Linked DNA regions of Homo sapiens: all the other regions are reported to be linked to region 1. Evidence: microRNA targets listed by miRTarBase, many of them from high-throughput screens and not tested one by one. Region 1 holds a microRNA gene; each other region holds the end of a gene's coding sequence.
Evidence for each region. Region 1 holds the annotated microRNA hsa-miR-940 (AAGGCAGGGCCCCCGCUCCCC, at 2,302-2,322, shown strand). A microRNA usually pairs through its seed, bases 2 to 8, with sites in the 3' UTR of a target mRNA and lowers its output. Matches are read on the target gene's strand: a 7mer-m8 pairs with bases 2 to 8, a 7mer-A1 pairs with bases 2 to 7 and ends in A, and an 8mer does both.

Region 1 (3,958 bases):
GATTGACGGTGCGCTGAGCTTCAGACTTTGTCTGAACAGCTTCGTGGCAGCAAGGAAGGGAGAAGGGAACAGATCCAAGCCGATCTTTGGGAGGAGAGAACCAGCATGACTTGGAGACTTTAGATGTCAGAGCAAAGGACAGGGTGCAGCTTGGTGACCCGGAGTGGGTGGGTGGGTGAATGGATGGATAGATAGTGGGGATGTGGTCTGCCATCACTGCCCTCTTCCCTGTGTGGGAAGCCAGCTCTTGGTGACTTCCTGCCGAGACCCACTCCCTCTGGCCCTGTCCGAGGGTGTCAAGTGTGCCCTTGACCCTTCACCCTGGGCTAAGGGATGTCCAAGGAGTTGGGGACAAAGGCAGCTAGGAGGAGGAGCTACCTCCCGAGTCTGCTGCAGTAAGTCACCAGTGTGTTCCTGTGGGTGGAGGCTGGCAGGCCCATCAGTCTGGTTTGGGTACCCGTTGGATTTGGGTTTGATGACATGTAAAGTGAGTTAGAGTCTCTGCATTACTGTCACACCTGCTGTGCCCAGGCATGGAAGATTAAGTGGAACAGAGGGGCCGCCCCCCTGCTGAAGGGGCCCCAGAGTCGGCGCTAGGGGAGGGGGCAGCCTCGGTGGTCCAGGCAGGCATAGGCGGAATTCTCTGAGGTGGCATTGGAGTCCAGTGGTCAGAGGTGCTAAAAGGCCCCAAACCTAGAGCCCATGCCCAGGGCCCCACTGACACCTGGTGGGCAGGGGCAGCCTGGTGACCCCACATGACATGGGTGGGCGTGACGCAGCACCAGCTGGGCCGACAGCCCTCCCCCTGCTGGTTTTTAATGCTCTGCAGTAATGTCATTTGGCCTGCGAATAAGCTTTCACACATTTTATATTAAATCTACAAGTATGATTTATTCAGGCACTTACGAATTTAATCAAATTTGTTTCTAAATATTACTGATTTTTGTTATCAAATGTGCCATCAGCTGTTGAGCTTTGAGAATTGAGCATCCTGGCTTTTGCCATTTTGAGGATCAGCAGAAGCATGTCTGGAAGAAATGTGAGAAAATAAAACTCAGGAGCCTACCCCCACCCTGCCCTTCCAGGAGCTCAGCCCCAGAGCCAGGCTGCTAAGGCCATGGAGGCTGAGGGCAGTGGAGCTGGGGTTTCTGGAGCCTCAGGGGCCCTGGTTTGCTGGAAGGGCAGGCAGGGCTTCATGGAGGGCATTAGGCAGTGGCCAGAGCCCTGCAGTGCTGGGCATGGGCTTCTCGTGGGCTCTGGCCACGGCCCTGAGCTCCTCCCCTTACCTTCCCAGAGCGGAGGGTCACCTGCTGAGCTGGGCACGGGCTTCTCGTGGGCTCTGGCCACGGCCCTGAGCTCCTCCCCTTGCCTTCCCAGAGCGGAGGGTCACCTGCTGACAGTTTGGGGCGGCTCTGTCTTTGAGAGCATGCCCTCATGAAGGCAGAATGTCCTCCCTGCCTCCATCCTCTGTGGCCCGGTGGCTCCTGCAGTGCCTGCCCTCAGAGGCTGGTGGCCTGGGACACAGGGATGAGGATGGGCTTGGTGGTGCTGCAGGTCACAGTGGGTCATGAAGGAGCTTTGGGGGTGTTGCATTCTCTGGTAAAGCACAGCAAGGGAGCCCTTTTACCCACTACTAAAACCTGGCTCTGCACTGAGGCCATGCGCAGCCCAGTCAGGTGGACGAGGGGGTAACGACTGGACCGTGGGGAGGCATCAGAGGAGGAGCTGCTGAGAGGCGGGTCACCACAGCCTGGTGCCTGTCTGGAGAGGGTGGGGCTGGGGGAGGTGCTGGCCAGGTCCATGGGGGTGGCCAGGCTGGGTCTGAAAGGGCCTTGCGCTGGTGTGGGGTGAGCTTGGTCTGTTGGGAGAGTATGCAGTTCATTGGGGCCTCCCTGGCTCCAGGTTTGCATGTCTGAGGAGTGGGTATCATCAGGGCCTGGGGCCTCTCCAGTGGGCATGTCTGAACTCTCCCAGGGTTGGGAGCCTGTGCTCATCACAAGCTCAAAGCACTCCATTTCTGCTACCATGAAGTCAAGGATGGTGACTGTGAGCCGCCTGGGACCTGAGCTGCCTGGGACTGTGACTGAGGCACCCGGGGTGCCTCTTAGGGCCTTGGGTTTGGGCCCATGGCTAGATGAGCCTTGGTGATTCTGTGGTATTGCCTGGGCCAGGTGGACCCAGGGGCAGCTGCGGCTAGTCCATTTGGAGCTCCTTCAAGCCGAAGCATCCAACACCAGTGTCTGTGAGGTGTGGGCCCGGCCCCAGGAGCGGGGCCTGGGCAGCCCCGTGTGTTGAGGAAGGAAGGCAGGGCCCCCGCTCCCCGGGCCTGACCCCACTGCTTCAGCCCCCTCCTGCCTGCCTACAGCCTGGCCTCGAGGGCCCATCAGGTGAGGGGACCCCACCTGCACCACCCCGTCCTACCTCCTGGAGGAGGCCTTGCCCCTGACAGGCAGCCTCCAGCCCTCCCACCCTGATCCCTGTGTGGGATGGCCAGAGCATGCCCAGCATGCTGGGGTTCGGCGGTGGGGGGCATCTGGAGGGAGGGACATGTCAGTTCGGGGAGGGATGAGCAGCCTAAGTGACTGCAGTGCTGGGCCATCTCCTGCATGGTGGAGCTCCCCTCGAGCCGCCTGTCTGCAGGGGGCTCTGGCCAGTAGTGCAGCCGGGCAGGGTCTGTACGGCACAGGCTGCACCAGCCTCCATGCAGACCAGTCTGTGTGGGAGTGGGGGTCTCAGAGGGCCCAGCCGGCCTATGCCATGAGCATGGTGCTGGCCCAGAGGGGGAGCTGAACAGCAGCTGGGTCGGTGCGTTACCTGGTGGGGCAGCAGACAGCAGCTGCCCTGGCTGGGGTTCAAGCCCCGGGCTGGCCTGGTGGAATCCCCTCTCCGTCACCCCCAGGTTCTGTTCTTGCAGGTGTCAGGCCTGGGGCCTTGAGACAGACCTGCAGTCTCCACCACAGCCACAGTGGGTGGGGTCTGGGTCCTCACGGAGGTGATCCTCCACCCCCACACCTACCTTGTGCATGGCAGTGGTGTCTCCTGGAGCTGGTGAGACCCCACCTCACTCAGGAAACCCCCCAGACGCCCCCAGGCAGAAGTGGCCATACTCCAGGGCCTGCATCCCTGTGCCCCACAGTGCGCCCTGGCCGGTTGGTTGTAGGAACTCAGAAAAGCAAAGCAAACAGGATGGTTCCCTGCTGGACACATTACATTCCCTGCTGGACACATTTCTATTGCAGATCTTTAGTCCAGGATTCCAGGGTAGCCAAGGTCACCTGAGTCCTGGGGACTCTGGGCCTGGTCTCTGAAAGCAGCCAGTAAGACAGAGATGGGAAACCCAGCAAGATGGAGTGAGCCAAGGGCACAGTTGGGTCCAGGCGCAGCAGGGAGCTGCCTGGGGGTGACACACACTTGACGGAGGCCACTGCACACACCCTACCCCGGCCTGAACTTGAGCACTTCCTTTTTTTTTTTTTTTTTAGATGGAGTCTCACTGTAGTCCAGATGGAGTGCAATGGCGTGATCTCGGCTCACTGCAAGCTCCGCCTCCCCGGTTCACGCCATTCTCTTGCCTCAGCCTCCTGAGTAGCTGGGACTACAGGTGCCCGCCACCACACCCGGCTAATTTTTTTGTATTTTTAGTAGAGACGGGGTTTCACCGTGTTAGCCAGGATGGTCTTGATTTTTCGACTTCATGATCCGCCTGCCTCGGCCTCCCAAAGTGCTGGGATTACAGGCGTGAGCCACCATGCCCGGCCAAGCACTTCCTTGAACACAGAGGTGACCATGAGGAGGGAGGCGTGAACCAGGATGACGGGGCAGCAGATGGAGCCTGCCTCCCTGAGACCTCAGGTGACCGAGTGCTGGACTGCCTCCTCCTGCCTACATGGCTGAGAAATAAACTTCTTTTTCAAACCACTGTGACCTGGGGTTTTCTGATACCCTCAGCAAGCCTGTT
Region 2 (3,958 bases), not on the chromosome of region 1:
TTTTTTTTTTGTGATGGTGGGTTTTTGTTTTATTTTTTATAAAACACTTGCACTCAAGAACATACAAACAGTGGCCACCAATCCCCACCCCTGGGGCTCCGGGGAGCCCCCCTGGCTTGTTTGTGGCTGTTTTCCTCTGTCCCTTCCCTGGCATCTGGTGCCAGAGGGCAGGTGCGGGGGTCCTGGGGCGGGTGGAATTTGTACAGCACTTTCATGGGGAGATGGTCACAAGAAAGGAAACCAGGACAAGATAAGGACTAAGTCTAGGGCACCCACAAAGATGGCAGACGAAGCCCATGAAAGGGCCTGCGACAGAGTGAAGAGACGGATGGGCCTGCGTTGGCCTCAGCTAGCTCTGGAGGCTCTGTGGGGGAGGGGCAGGTGGGCCTTGCAGTCAGGATTCGGTAATTACACTTTGCTCACGGGTAGCACCTTCGGAGTCCTCCTGCCTTGACCCCCAGGTCAGGTGATGGTGGCCTCACAACCTCCCCTATGAGGTAGGTGAAGTATTATTACCATCATTTTACAGATGGGGAAACCGAGGCCCAGGGAGTGCGGGTGACTTGCCCAAAGTCCTGGGATGGTGGCAAGGCTCCGGTGCCCTCCCCCCACCCTCAAGTTCCCCCATTCTCTGCTCTCCTATTGCCCTAGACCGCCCCCGCCCCATCCCATACCACCCTTACCTCCCGTGCTAGCCTACCCGGCCCTCGGCCCACCGCTTGCCGCCCCAACATAGCATCCCAGAGCTCCACCTGCACGTGGTGGTGGTGGGGCGCTGGGGAAGCCCAAGCCTGGTCGCTAATGTGCCTGGGTGGGGTCTGGTTGGGAAGAGACCCCTGCCAGGAGATGCTCTCTGCATAGGATTGGCTAAGAGCTCTGTGGGCGGGGCTCGGGAAAAATGGGGAGCCGTTGCCCCGCCCACTCGATACAAGTTGGTTGGATCCCCAGGGCGAAGGCGCCTGGAAGGTGGGGGCTGGCTCACTGGGCGGTCTTCCGCGGGGCAGGCGGGTGGTGGGGGGACAGGAAACCGAGGCGGATCCAAGAGAGGAGTGGAGAAGGGCAGATCCCCTCCTCCGCTCAAGACTTCCCACCACACTCTCTCCCACGTCCACGAGGCCTCGGGGTCGCTGCCCTCCCGTCCCGGCTGGGGGCCGCTCCCCAGCCCGCCAAAGAGGAGGATGCAGTTGGGGCCGACCCCATTTTAAGCAAAGCTACAATATAGAAACATTTGGATTTACAAGGAACGTGGGTGACTATTTGCTTTACATTAGCATTCTTCACTCTACAAAACGATTCACCTACTATGTATGATGTTCCTCCAGATCCCAGGGAGAGGAAATGGTGGGGGTGTGCGATTTAATTTCAGAAAATTTCGGTATGGGCAAAAGGCGACCCGTCTACTGCAGCAAGCAGAATGCTCAGCTCAAGGGGAAGCCGTTCGAAGGAAAATGGTTCCCAAATGCCAATGGTCTCCCCACGCCCTGGATGTGGGGACCCTATCCAGAGTCCCCTTCTTCTCTTTGGGGTGTCACAGGCCCATCCAGAGTGGAACTGGGGGCTAAGACCACGGCCACAGACTGTGGGGGCCTGGCGCCACCTGGCGGTAGTTCTGGGAATGTCAGGCCCAGGCTCGTGGACCCCCAGGATTGGAGGCTTTGTCACCAGCTGGGTCTTGTATCAATACCAGGACCAGCGTGGGGATGAGAGGGCTTAAGCAGGGATCAGCCTGAAATCTGCCGTCTCCAAGGGGAAGCCAGTTTTAGTCTCATCAGTGGCCGAGGCAGAGAAACCACAGCTTCTTTGTGTGTGGCAACCTCAGAACTCACAGAATCCTGGTCTTTTCCCTGCCTCCTTTCCCTGCACTGTGAGTGAGTCGGGCAGAAGGAGCTGCTCCCGGGGACCAGGGAGTGGGGAAGGGTGAGAAGACAGTCCTGGAGAAGGTCAGGTGATGGACGATCAGAGACCACGCACGATGAGACGGAATGAATGGAAGGTCTACAAGCATTGGGGGATGGAGGGGTGGAGGAAAGAAGGGTGGAGGTCTGCACAGGCAGGGAGAGATGAGGAAGGGCAGGCAAGCTGGAAAGCATGGAGAATAGGGCAGATGTGGCTGCGTATGAGGTGTGGGAAGCTGGCGGGGGGTCTTTTGATGAAGGAGTTAGGGCAAAGCTAGTCGGGGCTCGGGACCCCCTGAGAAGGAAGGGAGATGAGTCCTGGTGGAATGCTATGCACACAGTAGGTGCCTAAAAGGTGTGAGTCAGTGTTCAAGAGATGAAATTGCTGAGGAGGGAACTACTTCAGATTCTGAGCAGAGGGGGGCACCAAGGGGAGAAGGGGAGGAGACGGGGGGATGGCAGGAGGCAGCCCAGTTCTCAGCCCAGCTCCAGCAACTGCAGCTCTTCTGTTTCTGACCTCTGCCTCACCCGACCCCACTCAGCCCTATGGGCCTCTCCTCTCACACCCCCGGCCTCCAACCCTGCCTGGCCTTCACAAAACCTGCCTTCTCTGTATAGTCCTCCGCATTTCCAGGCCTCTGTCCCCACGCACACACACAATGGACACAACACGAGTACAAAGGGCCACAGCTCCAGGACCCAGGAGCGGGCTATATACTATCCTCGACATTCAGGGCCCAGCCGGCACCTGAAACTGCCCTGGGGATGGGCCTCTCCTGGCCAGGCCGGGGCCAAACGCCTCAGCCTCCCCTCCCCGGGTCCACATCGGGGGCTGGAGAGGGAGTGGCCTCTCTCCACTCCAGGTGCTGCCTTAAAGAAAATGGGGGACCATGCCCACCTGGCGGGCCTCTGGAGGGGTCTGCCTGTCTGGCCGTCTGGCTCTCGAGCTCCCCCAACTTCTTTAGTATTAGTAAGTCAGGAAGAAAAGGGGCAAAGCAGGAAAATGCCTCCCAGAGCCCCTTCCCCGGAGCTGGACTGTGGGGGATGGGGCTGGTACTTCCTAGAAACGGGGCCCAGTTGAGTCCTGGGACCCCTCCCTGGCTGAGCCCTCAGGGTCCTCCCCTCCCTATGGCAGGGGGCTCAGGCCGGGCGTTGTGCATAAAGTGGTGAGGGCATGATGGGGACCTGGGCCCTCGGCCCCCTGGGCCTCCCTTGGCCCCACTCAGGCCTTCAGCTGGTGCCACTGGGCCACGGGCTGCCGGGGACGGGCAATCATGTCCTTCCAGTGCTTCACCTCCCCTGGCCCGCTCTTCCAGGACAGGTAGATCTGGGGAGAAAGGGGAGACGATGGCATCGGCACAGGCTCCAGGGCACTGGCCCTTTCCCCCACAGGGGTGACACCCCAACTCCACCATGATACCCTAGCCTGTGGCCCCCCAGCCTCCACATGCTGTGACAACCTACCCCACAGAGGCGCTCTCCTCCCTCCCCCAGTCAGCCTGATCTATTTTCCTGGTTGTCTACCCCCACACCCCCAAGCCTGGGCACGCCAGGCCTCTCGGAATTAGACTGCCAACCTATTTTGCAGTGGGGTCTGGAAGGTGGGGTTGGAGGCAGCTTGTCTCCATGGCCTTCCCTGCCCTATCTGTTGGGTGATGTCCAGCCCCCCTGAATTATAATCATTCCCAACTCCTGGGCACTTGCTACATGTGAGTACTGAGCTAGGGACTTCATACACATAGATCATCAAATCCTACAACTGTGAGGTAGGATTATATGATTATCTCCATTTTTCAGATGGGGAAACTAAGGTACGAAGAGTTAAGAGACTTACCCACAGTCACAGGGTTTATAAGTGGTGCAGAGGGATTGAAATCCAGGTCTTTGGAGCTCTATGCTACCGGCCTAATCCTGCTTCGCAGCCTCACCCGGCTGCATGCATGAATCCCTCCGGAACCCCCAGGATTGGCCCAGCTGACCTCAGCTTTGGGACTTGGGGGTGATTAAGAGTATGAGCATTGGAGAAAAAACAGGTACATGGGGCCTTCTATAGGACACCCGGC
Region 3 (3,000 bases), not on the chromosome of region 1:
TGTCCAAGGATTGGGATAGTGTGAAGCCAGGACGGGGTAGAAGTGTCCATGGGCTGTATGTGTGCAGGGGCTGGACACATGAGGTTGGGCACTGAATGTCCAGCTCAGGGCTGGGGTCAGGGGCCAAAACCTGCTCAGATCAGAATGGGGCCTGAGGACACTTCTCAATTCATTATCTCCACCTGGCCCAGGAACTGCATCGGGAAACAATTTGCCATGAACGAGCTGAAGGTGGCCACGGCCCTGACCCTGCTCCGCTTTGAGCTGCTGCCTGATCCCACCAGGATCCCCATCCCCATTGCACGACTTGTGTTGAAATCCAAAAATGGAATCCACCTGCGTCTCAGGAGGCTCCCTAACCCTTGTGAAGACAAGGACCAGCTTTGAGGGCCTCCACCTGCCGTCCTGTCTTCCTGACCCCCGCTTCTGTCCCCTTCCTGTCTGCCCATATCCTGTTTTCTGTCTGCCCACCTTCCCTTCTTCCCACCTGCCTGCTGTCCCCCAGTCTGCCTGCCCTTCTCTCTCTCACCTTTCTCCAGGCTCCCTACCTGCTTGTCTACCTGTCTCCTACCCACCTGTATCTCTTGTTGGGAGAAAAGCTGAGTGTTGGGAGAAGCTGAGGCCGAGCTTGCATGTCTGACATAATGTAAAAGAGTCTTGGATCATGTCCAGGATCCAGGGTCTAAAACCCCTTGTGGCCTTTGGAACACCAAGCTCTGTGCTGAAGGGTGGAAGGCTACCCTGACGCACCATAATCTAAGCCCGGGGCATAAAACCCCTCGTGGCTTGGATAGAATCCAGGGCTCGTGGCTCTGGAATGTGTCTGAACTTGCTGCCTCCTCGCTCCTTGCTCTCCCAGGATCAATTGTATCTTGAGTTAAAAGAACCTGCTCTCCATTATCTCAAGTAGCAGAGCAGATGCTAAACCGTCACAGCTGTAAATCATGTGCTTAATGCAACATGCCCTTTCGACCCCCACATTCTCACCACCTGTTTCTTTGTTTGATCACCAATAAATAATCTGCACTTCCAGAGCTCGGGGCCTTCACAGCCTCCATCCTTAGCTTTGGCGCCCTGGACCCACTTTCTCTCTCAAACTGTCTTTTCTCACTGCTTTGACTCTGCCGGACTTTGTCACCCCCACGACCTGGTGTTGGGTCTGAACACCCCAACATCCCTGAATCTCCACCCACCTCCCAAACTCCTGCCTGCCCTCCAGACTGTCTGCCCATACACCTGTCTCCTTCTTCCTGCCTGCTTGTCTGTTCCTATATTAGTTTCCTATTACTGCTGTAATAAACTATCACAATCTCAGTGATTTTAAATAACGACTTTTATTCTCTTACAGTTATGGAGGTCAAAGTCAGATATATGGGTTTCACTGAATTAAAACAAGTTCTGGAGAGGGCCAGACCCCCACCCCCAGAAGGTTTCAGGGAGAGCCCTGCCCCTTGGCTTTTCAGCTCCAGAGCTGCCTTTTTTGCATTCCTTGGTACGGTCCCCTCCTTCCTCTTTAAAGCCAATGGCATCTTCAAATCTCTCTCTCTGTGACTGTCTTCACATCTCTTTCCCTCTTATAAGGACCCTTGTGGTTAGTTACATCAAGCTTATTAAGATAATCAAGGATAATGTCACCACCTCAAGATCCGTTACTTACTCAAAAGTCCATTGTGACATATGCAGTCCCACAATCACAGGTTTCATGAATTAGGATGTGGACAACATGGAGACCCATTGTTCATCCTAGCACAGCCCCTACCGGATTGTCATCCAATGTGTCCATCTAAATCTCTCCTGTATGCTACCTACCTACATACGTGATTGTCAGCCAGACAATCCCTCTATCTTCCCTCTTCTCTAGAATAAGGTTCACAAGCTTGCATGCTTTGTCCAGCTTCACATGGAAGGTGATAGGGTTAGAAGAGGAGACACTAAGGCAGGGAGATAAATCCCTACTGAAGAGGGAAAATGGAGATGAGGTGTGCCCAATTGTGCCAGAACCCTAGCAGGGCCTGGTTTGATCCATCCCCCTGCACACAGCCTCATACCATGTCTCCCCTGGTGCCCACACCCTCTCCAGCTCCTGAGGCTCCCATGGTAGCTGAGTTTAGACAAACGATATTTATCTAGGAGATCAGAGGGAGAAGCTCACACCTGTAGGGAAAAGACTCCAGGCCTCCATTCCATTCAAGATTTAGATTCAAGATGAATCACAGCAAGGCTGAGCTAAGGGCCTGCCTTGCTGTGTTTTGTGTTACTGTAACTGAATACCCAAGGCTGGGTAATTGATCTAGAAAAGAAGTTTATTTTGCTCATGATCTGGTGGCTGAAAAGTTTAAGTTTTGGCAGCTAAATCAGATGAAGGCCTCATGCAGCTTCCACACATGGCAGAAAGCAAAAGGGGAGTGGCATATGCTGAGATTGCATGGTGACAGAGGAAGCAGGAGAGAGACCAAGGAAGCAAGACTCTGTTTTGATCCCGATGTCTTGGAAACCTGTCCATTCCAGATACAGCTAAAACTCAAGCCTGTGAGGTGGAAGGGGGCACTAATCTCTTCATAAAGGATCTGTCTCCACGATCTAAATATCTCCCACTAGGACCCACCTCCCAACACTACTGTGTTGGGGATCAAGGCTTCAGGAGTTTGGTTGGGAACATCCCACATCCCAGCTATAGTGAGGCTGCACTGAGCTGAGCAAGAAAGCCTCAAAGGCCTGGTCTGTCATGAGGATCTTGTAAATTCAGCTATCCACAGCCCCAGTGAGGTGTAGAAAGAGACCCCAGCCTAGCAACGTCACCAGGTACCTGTCAACCTTCCTCACATACGGAACCTGCAGGCTTCTCTGGAAGCTCATGGAGTGGGCAGCTGTCCAGTCAGGGGTGGGAGGAGCCCAGGTAGGCAAATGGGTCTGGCTGGTGGAAGAGGCTGTCAGACCCCAAGCAGCTCCTTCCCAACAGCACAACTTCTTGGTTGTCGTCTGCCTCTCTGGCTGGCCACC
Region 4 (3,958 bases), not on the chromosome of region 1:
CTGCACTCCAACCTGGGTGACAGAGCGAGACTCTGTCTCAAAAAAAAAAAAAAATTGTCAGCCTGGCATGGTGGCACACATCTGTAATTCCAGCACTTTGGGAGGCCGAGGCGAGTGGATCACTTGAGGCCAGGAGTTCGAGACCAGCCTACAAAAATTAGCAAGGTGTGGTGGTGCACGCCTATAGTCCCAGCTACTCTACTCGGGAGGGTGAGGCCCAAGAATCACTTGAGCCTGGGAGGCAGAGGCTGCAGTGAGCCAAGATGGCATCACTGCATTCCAGCCTGGGCAACAGAGCCAGACCCTGTCTTAAAAAAAAAAAGAATTGGCCGGGCACGGTGGCTCACGCCTGTAATCCCAGCACTTTGGGAGGCCAAGGTGGGCTGATCACAAGGTCAGGAGATTCAGACCATCCTGGCAAACACAGTGAAACCCCGTCTCTACTAAAAAATGCAAAAAATTAGCTGGGTGTGGTGGCGGGCACCTGTGGTCCCAGCTACTTGGGAGGCTGAGGCAGGAGAATAGTGTGAACCTGGGAGGCAGAGCTTGCAGTGAGTGGAGATAGTGCCACTGCACTCCAGCCTGGGTGACAGAGCCAGACTCCGTCTCAAAAAAAAAAAAAAAAAGATTCATGAATAACATGTAGTATAATGTTTGGGGATCAGGTGATACCTAATTTATTCATACTGATGGACAGATCAGTATGAATATTAGGGTTGAATAACTTGATAAAATAGTACAATACTCCTTTCTCTGAATATATTCTGTGATTTATTGACTAACTTGTACATGTTTAATTTCTGTGCATGCAGCTTAATGATAAAGAAGAAGCTTTGGCTCATCAAAGAAAAGTTAGCTACATGCTTGCTCGGGCATTGGAAGACAAAGACACTGCTTCAAACGAGAATAAAGAAAAAAATCCTATAAAAGAGAATTTCCCTTTCAACAACCCCTGGCGTAAGACTTCAGAATTCTCTGTTTTGGGTGATCCTATACATTCAAGTGTCTGCATTTTAAATTCTGTGGGCTGCATTTGTTCAATCCAGCACTCTCAAATAGATCCAAACTATAGAACTCTTAAAAGATCCCATTCTTTGCCATCAAGTATCATATTTTAAAGACAAGCCAGTTGAAATTGGAACTGAGAGTTGTTTATATCGAGATACTTTGAAAAATGATTTTGTAAATTTTGCTGCATCTTGAGAAGTTGTATGTTTCCTAGGTATTTCTAAATTTTAGGAGGTCACTTAAATCAAATATTTTCTACATTTTCTTTTTCTTCTTTTGAGATGGAGTCTTGCTCTGTCACCCAGGTTGGAGTGCAGTGGTGTGATCTCGGTTCACTGCAACCTCCGCCTCCCGGTTCAAGCAATTCTCCTGCCTCAGCCTCCCGAGTAACTCGGATTACAGGCATGTGCCACCACGCCCAGCTAATTTTTGTATTTTTAGTAGAGACGGGGTTTTACCATGTTAGCCAGGCTGATCTTGAACTCCTGACCTCAAGTGATCCGCCTGCCTTGGCCTCCGAAAGTGCTGGGATTACAGGCGTGAGCCACCACACCCAGCCTATTTTCTACATTTTCTACAAGAAATTAGTATTCTGTGTTGACATTTTATTTATAAATTACATTACTGTATTTATAAATTACATTACAGGCTGGGCATGGTGGCTCATGCTTATAAATCCCAGCACTTTGGGAGGCCAAGGTGGGTGGGTCACCTGAGGCTGGAGTTCAAGACCAGTCTGACCAACATGGAGAAACCCCATCTCTACTAAAAATACAAAAAATTAGCTAGGCCTAGTGGCGCATGCCTGTAATCCCAGCTACTTGGGAGGCTGAGGTAGGAGAATCGCTTGAACCTGGGAGGCGGGGGTTGTGGTAAGCCGAGACTGTGTCATTGCACTCCAGCCTGGGCGACAAGAGCGAAACTCTGTCTCAAAAAAAAAAAAAAACACATTACAGTGTTTGCCAACATCCTAAAACAAAAAATAATGATTTTTGGGAAAAACAAAAAATTATTTAACTATTTTGATTGACTATAGGGATCTTAGCTTGGCTAAATCAACAATATAGCAATGTATCTTAATGCTCTAAAAAGTAACAATACCTAGGACTGACTGAATGTTAATTTCTGGAATTCATTTATCTTGTTTTATTTGCCTTGTTCAGTATTTTTCATTTACCATATGAAGTTTAGAAATAACAATTTCCTTAAGTTAACTTCAATAAGACAGTTTTGATGGTGGGACCTTGGCAGAAGTATATTGAGTCAGTGCCGGCTGCGTTCATGGCTTCTTGTCAGGGTAGTAACATTTTGCAACCAAATCTGCACAGATTTGTAGCCAAGTCTACAAAGTGCTTAACAGCTCTTTTCATTGCATCCTGTGAGATGGTTGTGATGATCCAGGAAATGGGGTCTCAGGAATCTGAAGAAGCTGCCTGAGCCAAGGTGATTTCTAGGAGTTTTTTTGTTTGTGGTATGTGAATTGGGGTGTGTGGGGGTGGGGTGTGTGTGTAGACAGGGTCCCACTGTGTTGCTCAGGCTGGTGCCAAACTCCTGGCCTCAAGGGATCCTCCTGCCTCAGCCTCTCAAAGTGCTGGGATTACAGGCATAAACCACAACTCAATAAAAAAGTTTTTAAAAATTTACAAAGCTCATATTTGATCCAGCTAGGATTTTACCCTGTACATTTGTATTTCTTGTAGGCTGGCGCACAGATATCTTAAATGGCTACTAATTGCTGCTGTGTATGAAAACAAATGGCTATCAAGGCCGGGTGCAGTGGCTTACAGATCTGGTCTGAATCTCAAGTCCAGACCAGTCCAGAGTTCAAGACCAGCCTGGGCAACATGGTGAAACCCCATCTATACAAAAACTCGGCAAGGCATGGTGGCATGCACCTGTTGTCCCAGCTACTCAGGGGCTGAGGCAGGAGGATGGCATGAGCCCAGGAGCTTGAGGCTGCAGTGAGCTGTGATTGTGCCACTGCACTCCAGCCTGAGTGACAGAGTGAGACCCCCATCTCCAAAAGAAAAGGCTATCAATACAAAAGTTTATCTAAATTACTGTACAGCTATACAATGGAATACTCTACAAAATGGAGAGATCCATAAGATAAAGCAAATGAATAAAGCAAAATGCATGTGTTGACAGCTGTTGTGATACCTCAGTTCTTGTCTTCTTGGTTTAAAAGAATTTAAATGAGACAGCAAAGGAGATGCAGCATAATTTATTGCAAAAGAAAAGGAGTATTTTGAAAGTTAGGTGCAGAACAGACAGTACACCTGAGAGAGAGAATTCAGGGCCGGCTGCTCGTAAGGGTGAGACAGCATTGATTATTGCTGGAGAAACTCCCTTTATGGGAGTTTTGCATTATTATTCATAAGGAGGTGAGGTGTTGCAGTAATCATGTCCTGGGTGGTCCTCTGCACAGGTGCAGTAGCTGTTAATGCTTGTTCATACACCACATGTCTCAGTAGCATCTTAAATTTCCACCTAGAGGTGTGTTTTTTATTATTATCATGTGCAAAGGATCAGTTTGAGGACAGGTAAAATCAAAATGTGTATGCTCTCTAGAAGGGAAAGTCCCTACTGAAGATAGCTTTGCTTAAATGAGCTCAATTACAATGTGAATGCTGAGGTTTATTGTGTTGGCTGTATGGTCATGAGAAAATGGTCATTTCCTTGACTACCTGATACGGTTTGGCTGTGTCCCCACCCAAGTCTTATTTTGAATTGTAATCCCCATAATTCCCACATGTTGAAGGAGGGACTTGGTGGTAGGTGACTGGATCATGGGGGTGGTATCCCCCATGCTGTTCTCATGATTGTGAGTTCTCACGAGATCCAATGGTTTTATACATGGTAGTCTCTCCTGCTGCCATGTAAAACATGCCTGCTTCCCCTTCTGCCAGGATTGTAAGTTTCCTGAGGCCTGCCCAGCCATGTGGAGCTA

Region 2: miRTarBase lists SYT7 as a target of hsa-miR-940. Seed matches in the 3' UTR shown: 7mer-m8 at 2,049-2,055.
Region 3: the mRNA of CYP4A11 is a reported target of hsa-miR-940. Seed matches in the 3' UTR shown: 7mer-m8 at 487-493, 7mer-m8 at 1,204-1,210 and 7mer-m8 at 1,250-1,256.
Region 4: miRTarBase lists CCDC125 as a target of hsa-miR-940. Seed matches in the 3' UTR shown: 7mer-m8 at 1,377-1,383, 7mer-m8 at 1,512-1,518 and 7mer-m8 at 2,578-2,584.

Annotation. Positions count from the first base shown.
Region 1 is chr16:2,269,505-2,273,462 of GRCh38, forward strand. It overlaps MIR940 (microRNA 940), which reads left to right and starts at 2,243; the gene lies at 2,243-2,336. It overlaps MIR3677HG (MIR3677 and MIR940 host gene), which reads left to right. Exons shown (of 3, transcript NR_132988.1): 2 at 2,172-2,387; 3 at 3,483-3,568. MIR3677 (microRNA 3677) reads left to right here and starts at 1,209; the gene lies at 1,209-1,268.
Region 2 is chr11:61,515,510-61,519,467 of GRCh38, forward strand. SYT7 (synaptotagmin 7) reads right to left here. Exons shown (of 13, transcript NM_001365809.2): 13 at 1-3,222. The coding sequence ends at 3,118. Among named protein-coding and RNA genes, the nearest start is that of LRRC10B, 8.7 kb to the left of the region's middle.
Region 3 is chr1:46,927,502-46,930,501 of GRCh38, reverse strand. CYP4A11 (cytochrome P450 family 4 subfamily A member 11) reads left to right here. Exons shown (of 12, transcript NM_000778.4): 12 at 192-1,314. The coding sequence ends at 387. Among named protein-coding and RNA genes, the nearest start is that of CYP4A11, 12 kb to the left of the region's middle.
Region 4 is chr5:69,279,889-69,283,846 of GRCh38, reverse strand. CCDC125 (coiled-coil domain containing 125) reads left to right here. Exons shown (of 12, transcript NM_176816.5): 12 at 813-3,672. The coding sequence ends at 1,118. Among named protein-coding and RNA genes, the nearest start is that of CDK7, 47 kb to the right of the region's middle.